Linked DNA regions of Homo sapiens: region 2 is linked to region 1. Evidence: fine-mapped QTL for protein levels in blood plasma. A gene starts in region 1. The other region holds a variant in brackets. All regions are shown on one strand. Distances are between the middles of the regions.

Evidence for each region. PIP is the chance, under the fine-mapping model, that this variant and not a neighbour inherited with it causes the effect. Sun 2018 read protein levels with aptamers (SomaScan).
Region 2: its variant is fine-mapped to the plasma level of the APOD protein (Sun 2018, PIP 0.95).

What each region holds. Positions count from the first base shown.
Region 1 is chr3:195,578,942-195,587,275 of GRCh38, reverse strand. It overlaps APOD (apolipoprotein D), which reads left to right and starts at 3,336. Exons shown (of 5, transcript NM_001647.4): 1 at 3,336-3,398; 2 at 7,781-7,937. The coding sequence starts at 7,815. RefSeq lists an enhancer at 3,716-3,885.
Region 2 is chr3:195,565,166-195,573,499 of GRCh38, reverse strand. It overlaps APOD (apolipoprotein D), which reads left to right. Exons shown (of 5, transcript NM_001647.4): 4 at 2,135-2,223; 5 at 4,365-4,795. The coding sequence ends at 4,600. Among named protein-coding and RNA genes, the nearest start is that of APOD, 15 kb to the left of the region's middle. The variant A/G (reference allele first, on the strand shown) is at 1,479.

The sequences.
Region 1 (8,334 bases):
GGAGAACGCTGCGTGGGGTGGGCTAGGAATCCAGAAGATGACCCAGGGAGGGGGACATTTGAGCCGAGTCTTAAAGAGTGAAGGTGCACTACTGAAACCTCTCAGTCTGCATTTTCACACGAAAAGTACATTTGTGCGTCCCCTTTATTCTAACTGACAAAAGAAAAATCACTTTAGAAAGGCATACAGGATGACTCTGGTAGTTGAAAGAACCACTTATTAAGAAATAAAGAATTCTTCATCCAGAAACATGTTTTTTTAGGAGATGAGATAGTTCTCTATTTCTTGCCACAAAGAGTCCATTCAAATAACTGCATCTTCCCTGCGGGTCTGAGAGTGAAACCACTGAGGCAATCACCTCCATGATGAAAGATCATCACCCAACAAAGAACTGCTTTCCGGAAAAACCACAGACCACAGACTGTCTCTTCAAGAAATGCGCTGTCGCCTGTAATCCAGCACTTTGGGAGGCCGAGGCGGGCAGATCACGAGGTCAGGAGATCGAGACCATCCTGGATAACACGGTGAAACCCCGTCTCTACTAAAAAAAAAAAAAAATTAGCCGGGCATGGTGGCAGGCCCCCGTAGTCCCAGCTACTCAGGAGGCTGAGGCAGGAGAATGGCATGAACCTGGGAGGCAGAGTTTGCAGTGAGCCGAGATCCGGCCACTGCACCACTCCAGCCTGGGCGAGAGCGAGATTCTGTCTCAAAAAAAAAAAAAGAAAGGAAAAAAAGAAATGTGCTCTCAGGTAAAAGCAAGATTTTGCAGCAGGTGAAAGAATGAGGTAGATCTATGTGTACTGATATAGAAAGATAGATACATTGTTACATTAAAAAACAAGTTTCTTGGCTGGGCGCAGTGGCGGTGGCTCATGCCTGTAATCCCAACACTTTGGGAGGCCGAGGCGGGTGGATCACCTGAGGTCAGGAGTTTGAGACCAGTCTGGCCAACATGGTGAAACTCCGTCTCTACTAAAAATACAAAAATCACTTGGGTGTGGTGGCGGGCGCCTGTAATCCCAGCTACTCGGGAGGCAGAGGCAGGAGAATCACTTGAACCAGGGAGGCTGAGGTTGCAGTGAACCAAGATTGCACCACTGCACTCCAGCCTGGGTGACAGAGTGAGTGAAGGTCGGTCTCAAAAAAAAAAAAAAGTTTCAGAACATTGAATATTGTTATTATTACATAGGGATCTGTATAGAAAGATCTAGAGGAATAATTACAAACAAAATAATGCTTATCTCTGAGGTGTGGGATTATGAGGTGCTTACATTTCCTGAGTCCTGCATTTTGGTGCTATTTTAATTGTTTTGAACAAATGTGTATTTATTTTGGGACTTAAAAATAAACACTTGCTTAGAAGATAGGTCTGATTTGTTTTATGCTGCTTAAGAATTTGTTACTGGCTATACATTCCAGAAACATGTGAAGAGAGGATTTCCCTAAGGAATATATCACTTACCAATATTTACAGAAAAAATGAACTGAGACCTAGGAAGATCGTGTGGCTTTTCTCCCGCTGTGACTCCTAGACCTGGACCTTCAGCTCCATGGTTGCCGACTTCAGTGCTGAGGGCTAAAATACATAGATATCTCCAACTCCAACATACATATTTGGAAACTTAGGCAACAGTGCTTTGTGGAAAACTGTGCAACTGCTTAGAGGAGAGAGAATTTTTTGTAATAGGCTGAAAAGAGGCTAACTGTGTATTTCTTCAATGACAGGCAATTCTTGGTGGCAAATGTGATACAGGTGAAGAAGACAGAAACATACAGGCTAGTGCTTCTCCAGAAATACAATTGAAATCAAAATCGCGTGAATATTACCTCTGGGGCCTTTTGTATATCTTAGAAACTCATTAAGTTCTTTGGATAGCATCCATTTAATTTATAAGTATTTACTGAGCACTTAGTATGTGCTTAGCCACTGGGGCACAACACAGAGTCAAAGAGACAAACTCCTGGCACGCCTCAAGCTCCTATCCTCCTGGGGAAAACATACTAAGCAGGATAATGTATAAATAAAGGAGAGAATTTCAGGTAAAGATATAATGAAGCAGGGAAAGGGACAGTGACAAGAGTGCTATTTTTGAAAGGTCAGGAAGCTTTTTAGGGAAAAGTGTCATCTGATCAGGGACCTGGAGTGGGGAAGGGAGCTACACAGAGCTCTTAGGGGAGGGCAGCACAGGAGGTCAGCGAGAGGCAGGCCCTGGGTGGTAGTAGGAATTTCTTATGTTTCTGAAAAGGCAAAGAACATCTTAAAGAAAGCGCTCACAACGTTTGGGATGTTACGGATCTGTGTTGTTGTTTTCATGTTTATAGACTCAGTGCTGTAAATGTATCTCTGTTGCTTACATATTTTAGAATGAATTTCATTTAGGAGTCTAAGTCTACTACGAAGGCACTGCCTTATCTAAATGTCTCTAAACATACCTCCTGCCTATCACAAAGACATAGAATCTCACTCACAAGAGTCAAAGTTGTTCATTCCACCAGGAGAGATAAGGCTGGACCAAAAGCACCCCTGGGTTTAAGTCCACACTCCCCACCACCCCGGCCCCCACCCCCAAGCAGTGACAGACTGTCTTGAACTTCTCGCTGCAAGGGTCATAAAAGGGACAGAGAACAGAGCGACAGAAGATGTCTTCTGCATTCTCAACTTTTAGCCCCAGTTGTTAGAGAACTGGTATCTCCCCTACACGTCTGGCTCTGGTGGAGAAAGAATGACAGCCCCTACTTACAACGAGGAGACTGTGGCTCAGAGAAGTTAGGGGGCTGCCCAGGATCCTGGAGAAAGCCAGCTTTGACTCATAACCCTCGCGCCATTACCTGACTCCCATTAGTGGAGTCAGGAACTCCATGTTCCACTTCAGGAAATGAGCTTGTTGATTTTTCATTTACACAAAAATGAAAAATAAATACCAGATGTTTGAAAACATGTTGCAACACGTCCTGCTGGAACTTAAAAGTGCATTCTGACCAAAAAAATTAAATTAGAAAATCCACATAGCAAAAAAAAAAATGTTTTGGATGAAAATATACTTTATCTTTCTCTCACACATACTCTCTCTCTCTCTCGCACACATACCCACACACACACACACACACACACACGCGCGCGCGAAAACAATATCTCATTTCTTCTTCAGGGAGCAGCTGTGAAGGAAATCGGGGGAGGAGGATGGACACAACATCCCATCTTTGTGTTTCGATACAGACTAAGCTTTTAGGCCAACCCTCCTGACTGGATGGGGGCGGCGGGCGTGGCATGCATGAAAAGTAAACATCAGAGACCTGAAGAAGCTTATAAAATAGCTTGGGAGAGGCCAGTCACCAAGACAGGCATCTCAAATCGGCTGATTCTGCATCTGGAAACTGCCTTCATCTTGAAAGAAAAGGTATGTACTGTAGTTTTAAGCTTTTCATTTATGATAATAATGTCTAAAATAGAAACAGTCTAGACTCTCCATTGCCCCATTTCAGCTACATATAACTACCACTGATTGAGAGCTTGTGCCGGTAGCTTTAGACTTGTTCTCATTTTTCCTCAAACAAATGTACAAGGTAGGTATCATCAGAGCCATTTTTCCAGTGATAAAGCTGAGGTTCAGATACACTAGCAACATGCCTAAGATAAAACCAAACCCAGTGTGAACTCATCCCAGCGTCTTTTGCTTACCCCTCCAAACTGGACAACGAGGTGTTTCCATGCACAAACACCGTCCTAGGTGAATTCTCAGCAAGCTGTCCAACGGTGCATCGCAGTAAAATAATCTGGAAACTGGAATTAATGGTGTGACTAGAAAATGCATTTGACAATATGGCATAAAATATTGTGTTTGGGAGATACGTGTCTTGTTATATTTAATGGCTAAATGAGTCTTTGAGACCTAATGACTTATTGGAACCTATTTTATTTTATGAGGTGAAATTTCAAAATCTAGTCCTTCACGTTCTGCAGATCTTTGAGGTCAGGGGCTGTGTCCCCAGGCACTAAGAGCGCGGGCTTGTGGGAGACCTAGGCTTACATTCTAGCCTGTCCCCAGGCCTAGGCTTACACTGTGGCTTCGTAGTTTACCAGGAAGTAACCCGGGCAAATTCACCTCGTTGGTATGAAGAGAGTGTCAGCAGAGGTCGCCTCCAGAGGAGGTGCTGTGGAGACTGAGCGCATAGCACCCTTAAAATCCTGGGACCAGGGCTTCTCCACGGGTAAGCTTAATGCAAGTGGAGCAGTGATTTCCAGCTAGTGCCAGGCCCAAGGTGGATGCACTGTCACCTTAGTTGGATTGCTTTTTAATTACCTCATATTCTGTTAAAAATCATATTTCTTTTTTTTTTTTTTTGAGACGGAGTCTCACTCTGTCACCCAGGCTGGAGTGCAGTGGCGCGATCTCGGCTCACTACAGCCTCCGCCTCCCAGGTTCAAGCCATTCTTGTGCCTCAGCCTCCCAAGTAGCTGGGATTACAGGACTGCACCACCATGCCCAGCTAATTTTTGTATTTTTTGTTTGTTTGTTTTTGTTTTGTTTTTTTGAGATGGAGTTTTTGCTCTGTTGCCCAAGCTAGAGTGCAATGGTGTGATCTTGGCTTACTGCAACCTCTGCCTCCCATGTTCAAGCAATTATCCTGCATCAGCCTCCCGAGTAGCTGTGATTACAGGTACTTGCCACCACACCTGGCTAATTTTTTGTATTTTTAGTAGAGACGGGGTTTCGCCATGTTGGCCAGGCTGGTCTCAAACTCCTAACCTCAAGTGATCTGCCCACCTCGGCCTCCCAAAGTGTTGGGATTACAGGCATTAGCCATCATGCCCGGCCAAAAATAATATTTAAATTATACTTATTTTGTAAAGTATTTAAACTCCTCATAAGAACAATCTTCCTATTGATATCAGAAGAAGATGCAAAAATATATGTCGTATATAATCCATATGTTACCCAAAGTCTTAAGTACACATTAATAACATGCTCAATAAGTAATGAGTAAATTAGAATGAAAGGACATTGAAAACTATAATGGATGCTGTCCGCCCTTTCTCTCACAAGGAGTTTTTTTGTTGTTGTTGTTTGTTTGCTTGTTTTGAGACGGAGTTTTGCTCTTGTTGCCCAGGCTGGAGTGCAATGATGCAATCTCAGCTCACCACAACCTCCACCTCCCGGGTTCAAGCAATTCTCCTGCCTCAGCCTCCCGATTACAGGCATGCATGTAATTACAGGCAGCATGGGATTACAGGCATGCACCACCATGCCCAGCTAATTTTTTTATTTTTAGTAGAGATAGGGTTTCTCCATGTTGGTCAGGCTGGTCTTGAACTCCCAACCTCAGGTGCTCCACCTGCCTCGGCCTCCCATGGGATTACAGGCTTGAGCCACCGCACCTGGCATCACAAGGAGTTTTAACCACAGGAATAAAACTAATGTAACCAAGAGGCATCTTTGGAAGAGGGTCAGTCAAAGGGGTTGTTCTGAAATCCTCCTACTGAGGTAAAGAATCTGTTTCAGCTCACAAGAGAGCATTTTGTCAGAGTAAGATGTAGAACTGACTTTTGTTGCAGTGTCATGTGGTGGTGAGACTCATCAGGTCACAGAGGTGGGGGGTTATTGAAAGGCCCTATGGCGGTGCACAGAAGAAGCAGATTCGGGGTGCTGCAGACAGGAGAGGGGGAGATGGAGCTCGAGTCCCAGCTCTCTGCCCCTTCCAGGCCCCAGCTTCCCCATCTGTACACCTTGGAAGTAGAGCTAGAAAGATGACCTCTAAGGTCCTATCCAGTGTGGGGACCTTGTGGAATGTGCATAGTGTGTGGCCAGTCTTTGAGGTTTGATCCTCTGGGCCAGGCTTTCAGCTTGGGCCTACTAAGTAGAATTCAAGATCTCTTTAAAATGGATGCAAATTTGTGTGGGTTTAGGCTGCATTTCTATAAATTCATCATCCCCCAAAAGGTTAAAAGACAGGTTTTGTTTATACAGTGGTGGAGCCGATGAGAAACGGAACCTCAGAGACCAGGGAAAGTGGCCCTGTGGCAGACTTGCTCAAAGGGGCCTCAGCAACCATCTCCCCCTGCAGCAACCCCAGCTGGCAAGCTGCCACTCCTTACATAACTGTTCTTTGGAAAACCAGGCAACAAAACCTCCAGGGGAAAAAAAGCTATTGATTATTAAAGGGTATTTAGAGGTTTAGAGACTCACAATAAAGCAGTTATAATTATTCCTGTAATGACACATCCTTCGAAATGCTCAGATCTGAGAACATTTTGCTTGCATTGCATCAGTCATCATCATTACAGGGAGAAATGCAGAGAGCTGGAAATAGCTCGTGTGCAAGCTACAGGCAAGGAGTCACAAGGAAAGGAGCAAATTGACAGCGAGTCAGTGAAGGAAACAGGGGAGCTTCCAATGCCCAGAACCTGCACACAGTCCTGCAGCCTCTGTCTCCCTGCCTTGCTGCCCCGCTTCAAAGCCAGCTTCTGCTGCCAAAGGACTCTTGGGGTTGAAATGCTTGTTGCACAGTTACACATCAGCTGACAGTCCTTCTCTGATTTAATGAACTTCATCTATGAAAAATACCCTCAACAGGCCGGGTGCGGTGGCTCAGGCCTGTAATCCCAGCACTTTGGGAGGCCAAGGCGGGTGGATCCCCTGAGGTCAGGAGTTTGAGACCAGCATGGCCAACATGGTGAAACCCTGTCTCTACTAAAAATACCAAAATTAGCCGGGAGTTGTGGTGGACACCTGTAATCCCAGCTACTCAGGAGTCTGAGGCAGGAGAATCACTTGAACCCGGGAGACAGAGGTTGCAGTGAGCCGAGATTGTGCCACTGCACTCCAGCCTGGGTGACAGAGTGAGACTCCATCTCAAAACAAAACAAAACAAAACAAAAACCCTCAACAGAATGTCAAAAAAAAAAAAAGAAGAAAGAAAGAAGAAAAGAAAAGAAAGAAGAAACCTGGGAAATACCATCATCTTTCTGCTTTTGATAATAACAATAACTAGCATTTATTGAGCATTTACTCTGTATCAGACACTCCTCTAAGTACTCTCTGTATATTATCTCATTTAATTCTCACAAAAATTCATGAGCTAGGAATGATAATTATTCCCATTTACTAGACAAAGAAGCTAAGGCATAAATTGGACACAGTTATACTTAGTATGGGGCAGAGTCACAATTTGAACCTGGCTGGGGTGACCCTGGAGCCCCCAGCAGGCCGCTCCCTGTTAAGGTTTCCAAGCGCACTCTTGGGCTGGTAGAACAGCCAGCAAGACGAGGGCAGGGGGAGGGATGGTGTCAGAGAGGCATCTCCCTGAAGAATCTCAGAGGACACTAAGTGTTGGGCAACATTTGGTTTGGTTTCGTGTCTTTCGTGGTTCACTTGGAGGCTTTAATCCCCCACTTTACATAGCCCTCTCCACGCTGTTTCTGTTCATTTGACAAGTATCTACTGAGCCGACACTTTGAGGTCCGTGGGTGATTCTGAGGAGAACTAGACACAGTGCCCATCCTGGGAGATGCATAATTAGGTGGGACAGGGGTGAAAATCAATCCAACAAACCAGAATACCAGGCAGAGAGCGCCCTCGTGGAGGTGCAGAGGCTCTGAGGAAGGCCTCACAGCAACAAGGACAGGCAGGTGTTCCCCTGCAGGATGAGGGTTCACATGGGCTGGGGAGAGAAGAGGAGGGACCGCCCACAGAGGGGACCATGGGCACAGCACTCTTACTTCATGATTGTGTGGCCTTAGAAGGCTCAGAATGACAACCCCAGCTGCTTTGCGTTCCCGCAGCTCCAGGTCCCTTCTCCAGCCACCCAGCCCCAAGATGGTGATGCTGCTGCTGCTGCTTTCCGCACTGGCTGGCCTCTTCGGTGCGGCAGAGGGACAAGCATTTCATCTTGGGAAGTGCCCCAATCCTCCGGTGCAGGAGAATTTTGACGTGAATAAGGTAAAAGGCGAACCTCCCGTTTGTTTTGCTGCCTCCGCTGTGAATAAGCGTTCTACAAGGTTCAATGTAATTATGCTGCTTTAATTTCCACTGCACACCTTGGGACAAGTATTTATCTTATTTGGGGTTTCCCCAAAGCAGACATCTGCTGAGATAAAGACTGCAGGCAGAGAGGTTTGGGATGATCCCGGGACGCACGAGAGCAGGTGGGAAGGTGAGTCGGAGACAGCACAGAAGCAATAAAGGGTGCGTTCCTGAGCTGTCGCCCTGGGCCGTCAGGGTCAGTCACACTGGGCACCCTCTGAGGACACGTGGAGCATGCCCCTCCGATTGTCCCACAGCTGCTGCCAGCAGGTCATGGGAGCATCCGTGGCTCTAGCTGAGCCCCCTGGCAGAG
Region 2 (8,334 bases), 14 kb after region 1:
CTTCCAGGAACTGGGAGCTCATCGCCTTCCAGGACAGTTCATCCCATCTCTGGGCAGCTTAATCTATCAGAAAGCTCCTTTTCTTATTAAGCAAGAATCACATACACAACATTCACACTCTAGGTTATGTAAACAGGATATCCTTTAGAAGTGTACATTTCTATTACTGAGGGCTTCTAACACAATAATTAATCCAAAAAGCTACGCTTTGGAAAGCAACTATAAACTTAAAAAGAGCCCCAGGAAGAGCTCCTTCCTACCCACCTTCCACTCTTGAAAATACAAATGCAGTTTTTCCATGAACATGTTGTGACTTCATGGTCAGAGACTGGTGTCCTGAAAACCGTTCTAGAGCAAAATGCAATTGACGGTGAAAAGGGCAGAATCTGCTGGGAGGAGACTGGTTTGTTGCTAAGTTAACGTATGCAGATAGAAACAGACCATCTTCCCCAGCTGTCTGAGATCCAGATGAGAGAGGAGGGCACGGTCTCCAGCTTTACATGGTGATAAACAGAGAAAGTACTTGGGAACATCAGAGCACAGTTCCCAGAATCCCTGGCCTGTTGCTCATTGTCCTGTTTCTAGGACATCCGTCACCACTAACCATAGCATTAACCTACTGACTTTCTTTTTTTTTTTTAATTGTATTTTAGTAGAGACGGGGTTTCACTGTGTTGGCCAGGCTGGTCTTGATCTCCTGACCTTGTGATCCGCCCCCCCTTGGCCTCCCAAAGTGCTGGGATTACAGGCGTGAGCCACCACGCCCGGCCAACCTACTGACTTTCTAACACATACGACTGCTCTAATTTCAGTTGGCCTCCCTGCTCTGCCTTGAGGATTGATAAACAGACATCCTCTCCTCTGTTGGCTTCCTAGGAAGAGCACCCTGATGCCTTAGCACCCTCCCTTTGGTGCCTCCATCTCCACACCTTTCCCCTTCTCCCAAGTTCATGGGGCCATTGGGAGTCATCTAGAAAGCAGGCTCATTCAAAGAGGTGAAAGTATTGCATCCAATCTAAGCCCCCAGCTTTTAAGACACACCACTGCGTTATATGCCACTAAGAAAGGAATGACACTGCTAATTGTCAGGTGACATCAATTGTGAGATATGCATTTCTTCACATTTAATGTCTCTGAAATCTGGGCATACCTGAGAATCACTGAGATAAAGTAAATGTTTCTTCACTGCCTCCTTTTACTTGGCCTACATTGAAATCCCCCACACTCACTCAGAGGCTTGCTGAACTAGAGGGAGTCTCTGGACTCAGGCCCCTTGATGGGACAGGCGATGTCACATGATATCACTGAGGCCCAAAGAAGGGGAACGCTTTTATGTCTCCTTGTTTTGAATTATTTTCAGTGATCAAGTCCATCCTCATCTGTACCTTTGGCCCTTCTCGTTTTAAAAAGAAGTGAATCTGCCAGGCACGGCGGCTCACGCCTGTAATCCCAGCACTTTGGGAGGCTGAGGCAGGTAG[A/G]TTGCCTGAGGTCAGGAGTTTGAGACCAGCCTGGCTAACATGGTGAAACCCCGTCTCTACTAAAGATACAAAAAATTAGCCAGGCGTGGTGGTGCATGCCTGTAATCTCAGCTCCTGGGGAGGCTGAGGGAGGAGAATTGCTTGAACCGGGGAGGCAGAGGTTGCAGTAAGCCGAGATCGCACCACTGCACTCCAGCCTGGGGGACAGAGCAAGACTCCATCTCCAAAAAAAAAAAAAAGTGAATCTTCTTTGTGTGTTGGGTTGTTTTGTTTGTTTTTCCATTCTCTTTTCTCCCTTTCTTTGGAGACTGGGAGCAGGAATTGGTCTTTCAGGCCATAGAAGATAGTCAGAGATAGTGTTGAAGTGCAAGGGCCTAACATACTGTCCCATCCTGGAGCTTGTCAATTGCGGCTTCTTATCACCCCGCTGCTCTCTTCCCCTGCTTGGCCTCAGAGACAGTCACAAGGGAAAGGCCAGGCCATGGAGCTAGGGTCTAGCCTGCCTTTGAGAGCCTCTCTTACCAGAAATCACGGTGTTGGCTGCCACGGTCCTTAGTGGCACAAATCTTGCCTTTCGTTGCTTATTGGCTTTCAATGAGTTGTTTTTCTTTTCTCTTTTCGTTTTTTGTATTTTTTCTTTTTTTAACTCACTGCAGAGCTGATGGAACTGTGAATCAAATCGAAGGTGAAGCCACCCCAGTTAACCTCACAGAGCCTGCCAAGCTGGAAGTTAAGTTTTCCTGGTGTAAGTATCCACTTTTCCCAGGAGGATTCAGGGACAGGAAATATGCAAACTGAAGGCTAGCGCCCCGGCTTGGAGAATTCCTGAGACACCTGAGTGTCATCTATAATCACTCAGCACATAATTATCTGTCAAACACTTACTACATGTCACGCACTAGGGTTGCCATGATGAGCCGGACAGAGCTGGCCTTGGTACTTATGGAGCTCACATCCCAGTGTGGATACTGACACGTGACCCCGCAATTTACTATAACTAGCTAGCGTTTCAACAGGTGAAACACAAGTAGGTGCACACCGGGTGTGGGCTGCAGAAGACACAACCCAGTCTTGTTTCCCAAAGGAAACTGGGGCCCGAAACATTAGCAGATATTAGCAGAACAACCTGCACGGCGCAGAAACTAGGAAGCAAGAGATGACAAGAGTGACGGCAAGTTTGAATCCTGCTTCTGCCACTTTCCAGTCACATTGTTGGGGATCCTGTGAGATACCTAATGACAGGCATTTGCCTCTGGGTTCTGAGCTAACTGAGGAAGGGACACAGGCAATAGAGAAAGCACCAAATATTAGTTTTATTTCCGACGAAGATACACTAGAGAGTTCAACCCAGAACTGTGAGGCTTTCTAACACGAAGAGTGCTTGAAAGCCCCTTTCCCACCTGCAGGGTAGACACTGAAGTCATCAGCTACAAAAGTTACTCCCTGCACTTCCTACTTCTCATCTCTGCCACTCCTCCACCCCACACCAGTCAAGTGCCTAGAGCGGGGAGGAGAGGAAGTTCTAATTTTATAGACCAAGAAAGGAATGCTGGGAGGAGAAAACAGTTCTTCTCACACTATGAATATGGACAACTAACTTCACATGTACAAGCCAGAAATAACTGCCCAGTGTCGTGAAAATAAACCAGATACACACGCTCTGTAAACTGTAAAGGGCTTTATACACAGTTTCTCTTGTTATTTTTATCAAGAAGGGAGCTAAAGTGCAGGTGGGCTGAGTGACGCAGGCCATCACTGAACTCATTAGAAGTAGAGTTGGGACCTAAACCTAGGTCTCCAAACTCTCAACTGAGTATTTTTCCCATAGGGATCAGGGACGGGGATTGGAGTGAAAGCTAACTATTACATGCATAACAAGGATTAGATGTTTGCGTTAGGCCTTGTAGGATTATGGGAGATTATGGAAAAGGATTTCCAAGTGAAGGGAACTGGAACATAGAAGAAGGCCTGAATACAGGCATATCACGAAGTCAGGAGTTCAAGACCAGCCTGGCCGACATGGTGAAACCCTGTCTCTACTAAAGATACAAAAAATTAGCTGGGCATGGTGGCGTGTGCCTGTAATCCCAGCTACTCAGGATGCTGAGGCAGGAGAATCGCTTGAACCCAGGAGGTGGAGGTTGCAGTGAGCTGAGATCGCGCCATTGCACTCCAGCCTGGGCGACAAGAGTGAAACTCCATCTCAAAAAAAAAAAAAAAAAAAAAAAAAAAAAACGAAGAAGAAGAAGGCCTGAATAAAGAGGCCTAGAGCCTGGGAGTGTACATGAAGAGGGGCATGAGGTTAGGAAGGGCCTTGAATGCCACATTAAAAGGCTTGAAGTTTCTTCCATAAACAATAGGAGACTGTCAAAGTTTTCAAATAAGGAGAGACATGTGAAGTTTTCTGTATTGTATCTGGGTAAATTTATTCTTCGGAACTGGACCACGAGAGGAAGGCAGAATGTGCCAGCCTGGGTGAGTGCAGGTGGGCCATGATGCCGCTGCTGGCAGAGGTGGGAGACAGATTTTTGCAAAATCACTCTGGGCTTAAGAGTTCTCAGTCCACCTGGGAATACACAGAGCAGCTGAAATGTGCAGATGGGTGATGACTATAACGCTGTCTCTCTCTCTCTCTCTGTCTCTCTCTCTGGGTGAGTGAGGCAGGCAGGCAGGCAGGGCACCAACAGTGCTAGAAAGGGTAAGTCAGAAACACTCAGTCTAGGCTTTCGTCCAAACTTCTTTCCAGGGTCTTTCTGTTTCTGGATTGATAAACAAAATCAGAGGTGGGGGGCTTGGTGGGTGGTTGTCTGGGCCAGCCTTCTTGTGTTGTCCTGAGATTTCTCTTGCCCTCTCCCTCCAATAATGCTGCCTCTCTCTGGTTCTCAGTTATGCCATCGGCACCGTACTGGATCCTGGCCACCGACTATGAGAACTATGCCCTCGTGTATTCCTGTACCTGCATCATCCAACTTTTTCACGTGGATTTTGCTTGGATCTTGGCAAGAAACCCTAATCTCCCTCCAGAAACAGTGGACTCTCTAAAAAATATCCTGACTTCTAATAACATTGATGTCAAGAAAATGACGGTCACAGACCAGGTGAACTGCCCCAAGCTCTCGTAACCAGGTTCTACAGGGAGGCTGCACCCACTCCATGTTACTTCTGCTTCGCTTTCCCCTACCCCCCCCCCATAAAGACAAACCAATCAACCACGACAAAGGAAGTTGACCTGAACATGTAACCATGCCCTACCCTGTTACCTTGCTAGCTGCAAAATAAACTTGTTGCTGACCTGCTGTGCTCGCAGTAGATTCCAAGTTGGATTAATTATTGTGGGTTTTTCATTATAAGCTTATGCTTAGAAATCCTTAAACAGGCTGGTTGTGGTGCCTCATGCCTGTAATCCCAGCACTTTGGGAGGCTGAGGCAGGAGGATCACCTGAGGCCGGGAGTTCAAGACCAGTCTGGGCAACATAGCAAGACCTCATCTCTACAAAAATGTTTTTAAAATTAGCTGGGTATGGTGGTGCACACCCGTGCTAGCTACTCAGGAGGTGGTGGCAGGAGGATGACTTGAGCCCAAGAATTCGAGGGTACAGTGAGCTATGATGGCACCACTGCACTCCAGCCTGGGCAACAGAGCAAGACCCTGCCTCTAAAAAGAAAAACAGAAAAAAAAATCCTTAAGCAGTTATGTTGAAAAAAACCAAGCACTGAATTGTCCTCATTTAAAGGTAACAATCCTGTTTCTGGAGTGGGGGAAGCTGATGGCAAAGGCGTATTCTGGGTGACCTGAATCCAGATGCCCCCGTTCTGGAGTAGATGCTGCTTTCAGGGTGAATTACTTGGGCGTTCGGAGTCCCTGTGGGGCAGTTTCTTTGAAGTGTTTACTTTCTCCTCGGGTCTTCAGAGCCAGGCTGAAGAATGAACCCATCTAGGGGTTTATGTAAGGAAGAGGAGAATCTATGAGGAAGAACATAGGGAGTTTCTTTTAAGGAAAAAAATACATATATATATGTTGTCTTTCATTCAACTGATATTTACGGAAGCCCAATCGCATTCCAGGCATTGAAAAATACAGAATCCCTGTCCTCCCACAGAAGCTCACAGTCTAGTGAGGGAGAAACAAATAAAGATGCCGTTATAATCCAAGGTGAAGAATGCAAAGGCAGAGGCACACAGAGGGTGCCAGGGAGCTCCAGGAAAGTCCCAACCCCTGCCAGACACAGGTGGGCAGTAGGGTTGTGCAGCTACACCTATGAGCACTCCAATTTCCCAGGACCAACAGGTCTCAAGAACGTCTTTGTGGCCGGGCGCGGTGGCTCATGCCTGTAATACCAGCACTTTGGGAGGCCAAGGCGGGTGGATCACCTGAGGTCAGGAGTTCAAGACCAGCCTGCCCAACATGGTGAAACCCTGTCTCAACTAAAAATACAAAACTTAGCCAGGTGTGGTGGCGGGCGCCTTTAGTCCCAGCTACTCAGAAGGCCGAGGCAGGAGAATCGCTTGAACCCGGGAGGCGGAGGTTGCAGTGAGCCGAGATTGCGCCACTGCACTCCAGCATGGATGACAGAGCGAGACTCCATTTCAAAAACAAAAAAAACCTCCTTGAGTTTGTTTTTTAACATTGTGACTTGTAAAACCAGAAAGACCTCAGAATGATCGCCCTGTAATTTAACTTAGCTCACATAACTGACAATTTACTAATGTTTTGGGAAATGAATAGAAAATTCAGCCATTTCATTAGATTTTTGCTTTCTTAGCATGAATATGAAATGTTCATTTTCTGGAGCACTCGAGTCTCTTTGATGCTTTAATGATTACAAAAATCCCAAGGATTTTAATATATACAATTTTCATTTAACTAAATAAATACGACCTCAGAATATAGCTTCCAATTCTAAATCCCAAAAGGCTGAAAGCCGTTAGCAAAAAGGCAGTGAGGAGGAGGTGGGCATGGAGGGAGGAGGGCCTCTCCTGGGCTCTGCCTGCGGCCACACCCTACACTCTGACACACTGGCCCCACCGCCCCCCGCCAGAGGGCATTTGGCTCCTCTGCTGAAAGACAGTTATTCCTGAGTGTTGCTCTGGGGAGCTGGCTTTTATCTCAGGCTACAAAATAAGTTGTGATTTCGTTCCTCTTCATAGCTGTCTAGTAACATCTAAAACAATGAATGTCACTATATTTTGCAACATTTTTCATGTCTTGACCAACACATAGGTTCATTTTTTTTTATGTGAATGAATTACTGAATAGGTAGATAGACAAATGGACTGGAGTTTTTGGTAAGGAAGGAAAAGGAATTTATGAGGCAGGTGTCAGGGGTAACCGAACCTGAGAAAAATTTGGGGGAATCACAGGGCAGTATGTGAGTACCAAATGTCTAGAGGAAACATGGGGACTAACAACAAAAAAATCCAGAGGGGAGAGAAAGAGAAAGGAAGTAGGACATAAACCACAAAACAGAGGCAAAGTGTATCATAAATCTCACGCACCCATCATCAGCTCCAGCAGTATATATAAAATATAAAATCATCTTAAATTCCAGAGAGATTACATTCTCTGAGCACCTCCAGGACAGAAAACATAACCTTGCAATTTTTTGTTGTTGTTTAAAAAGTGTATTTGCTAGAGATTTCATCAATCTTGCTTCAGCTTTCAGCACCCCCTAACTTTTTTCCTAAAGTGCTTTGAAGCAGATCCCACGTATCACATCCTATTATTTTGCCCATAGCGACTTCAGTAGAAATCTCTAGCAAATACAGACCCTTTTTAGACAACAAGAAAAAATTGCAAGGTTATGTTTTCTGTTCTGGAGGTGCTCAGAGAATGTAATCTATGGAATTTAAAGATTATTTTATATAATCTGGAAGATGAAAAGGAAGAAGTATGCCCAAAAATGTTCATAGTTTTATTGTAGCCGTCCCCAAGCTGAAAGGGGCGATAAACTAAAGCTAACAGCAGAGGAAGGGTCATAAATCATGAAACAGCCACTTGATGTGATGTCATGTGTTCATGAACATTTGTAGTTGTAAGAACTACGAAGCCACACTCACTGCCGGGGGAGGTAGGGGGGTCCCAGCGCACGGCCTCACTGCCCTGCAGAGCTAGAATCTAAAGCATGTGGCTCTACCTCCCCAGCCACCCCTGATTGGACCAATATGTGTCCACCTGAGCTAGCAACAGCCAATCCACAGGCTGAACAGAAACCTCTGACTTCTATGGCCTCGCTGGATGGAAATGATAAACTGAGACAATCAAATAAGAGTTTGACTTTAAGCAGTCTGGAAAGAGGATCATTGAAAGCTCTGGTACTGCAAGGTCATGTGGCTTGTAGTGGCCACTACCGGCCATGCACTACTGAAGTGATGTGTGCGGAACAGAAACGCAGGGTAAGCAGAGATCCCCCCGCCCACCCAAGGCCCCCGACAGCAGCTTCAGTAGCTGTTGGCTCTCCCTGCCCTAGCACCAATTCCTGGGGAGCTTAGCCAGCTTAGGCGCCTGTCCTTGGTTTCTCTAAGATTAGGCACGTACACACAACTATTTTCTGAGACAATTTAACTTGACTGAGTAAATCTTCCTTGCAACCAGAATAGTCCTCAGACAAAAGCGTTCACAATATAATGTTGAGTGAAAGAATGCTGCATTTTAACTATGCTGTATTTATAGCCTCATGAAATGATGGCATAAAATTAAGAACTAAAAGTGAACAGAGGAAATGAAGGCAATTAATGTGTTAGCGTGGTGGAATTATGGGTAATTTCTCCCCCTCTTATAGTTTTGCGGCTGCTACTTACAGTGGAGGCCCTAAAACTTCAGACCGTAAAACCTCCTTCTAGTTCAGCCTGACCCTCT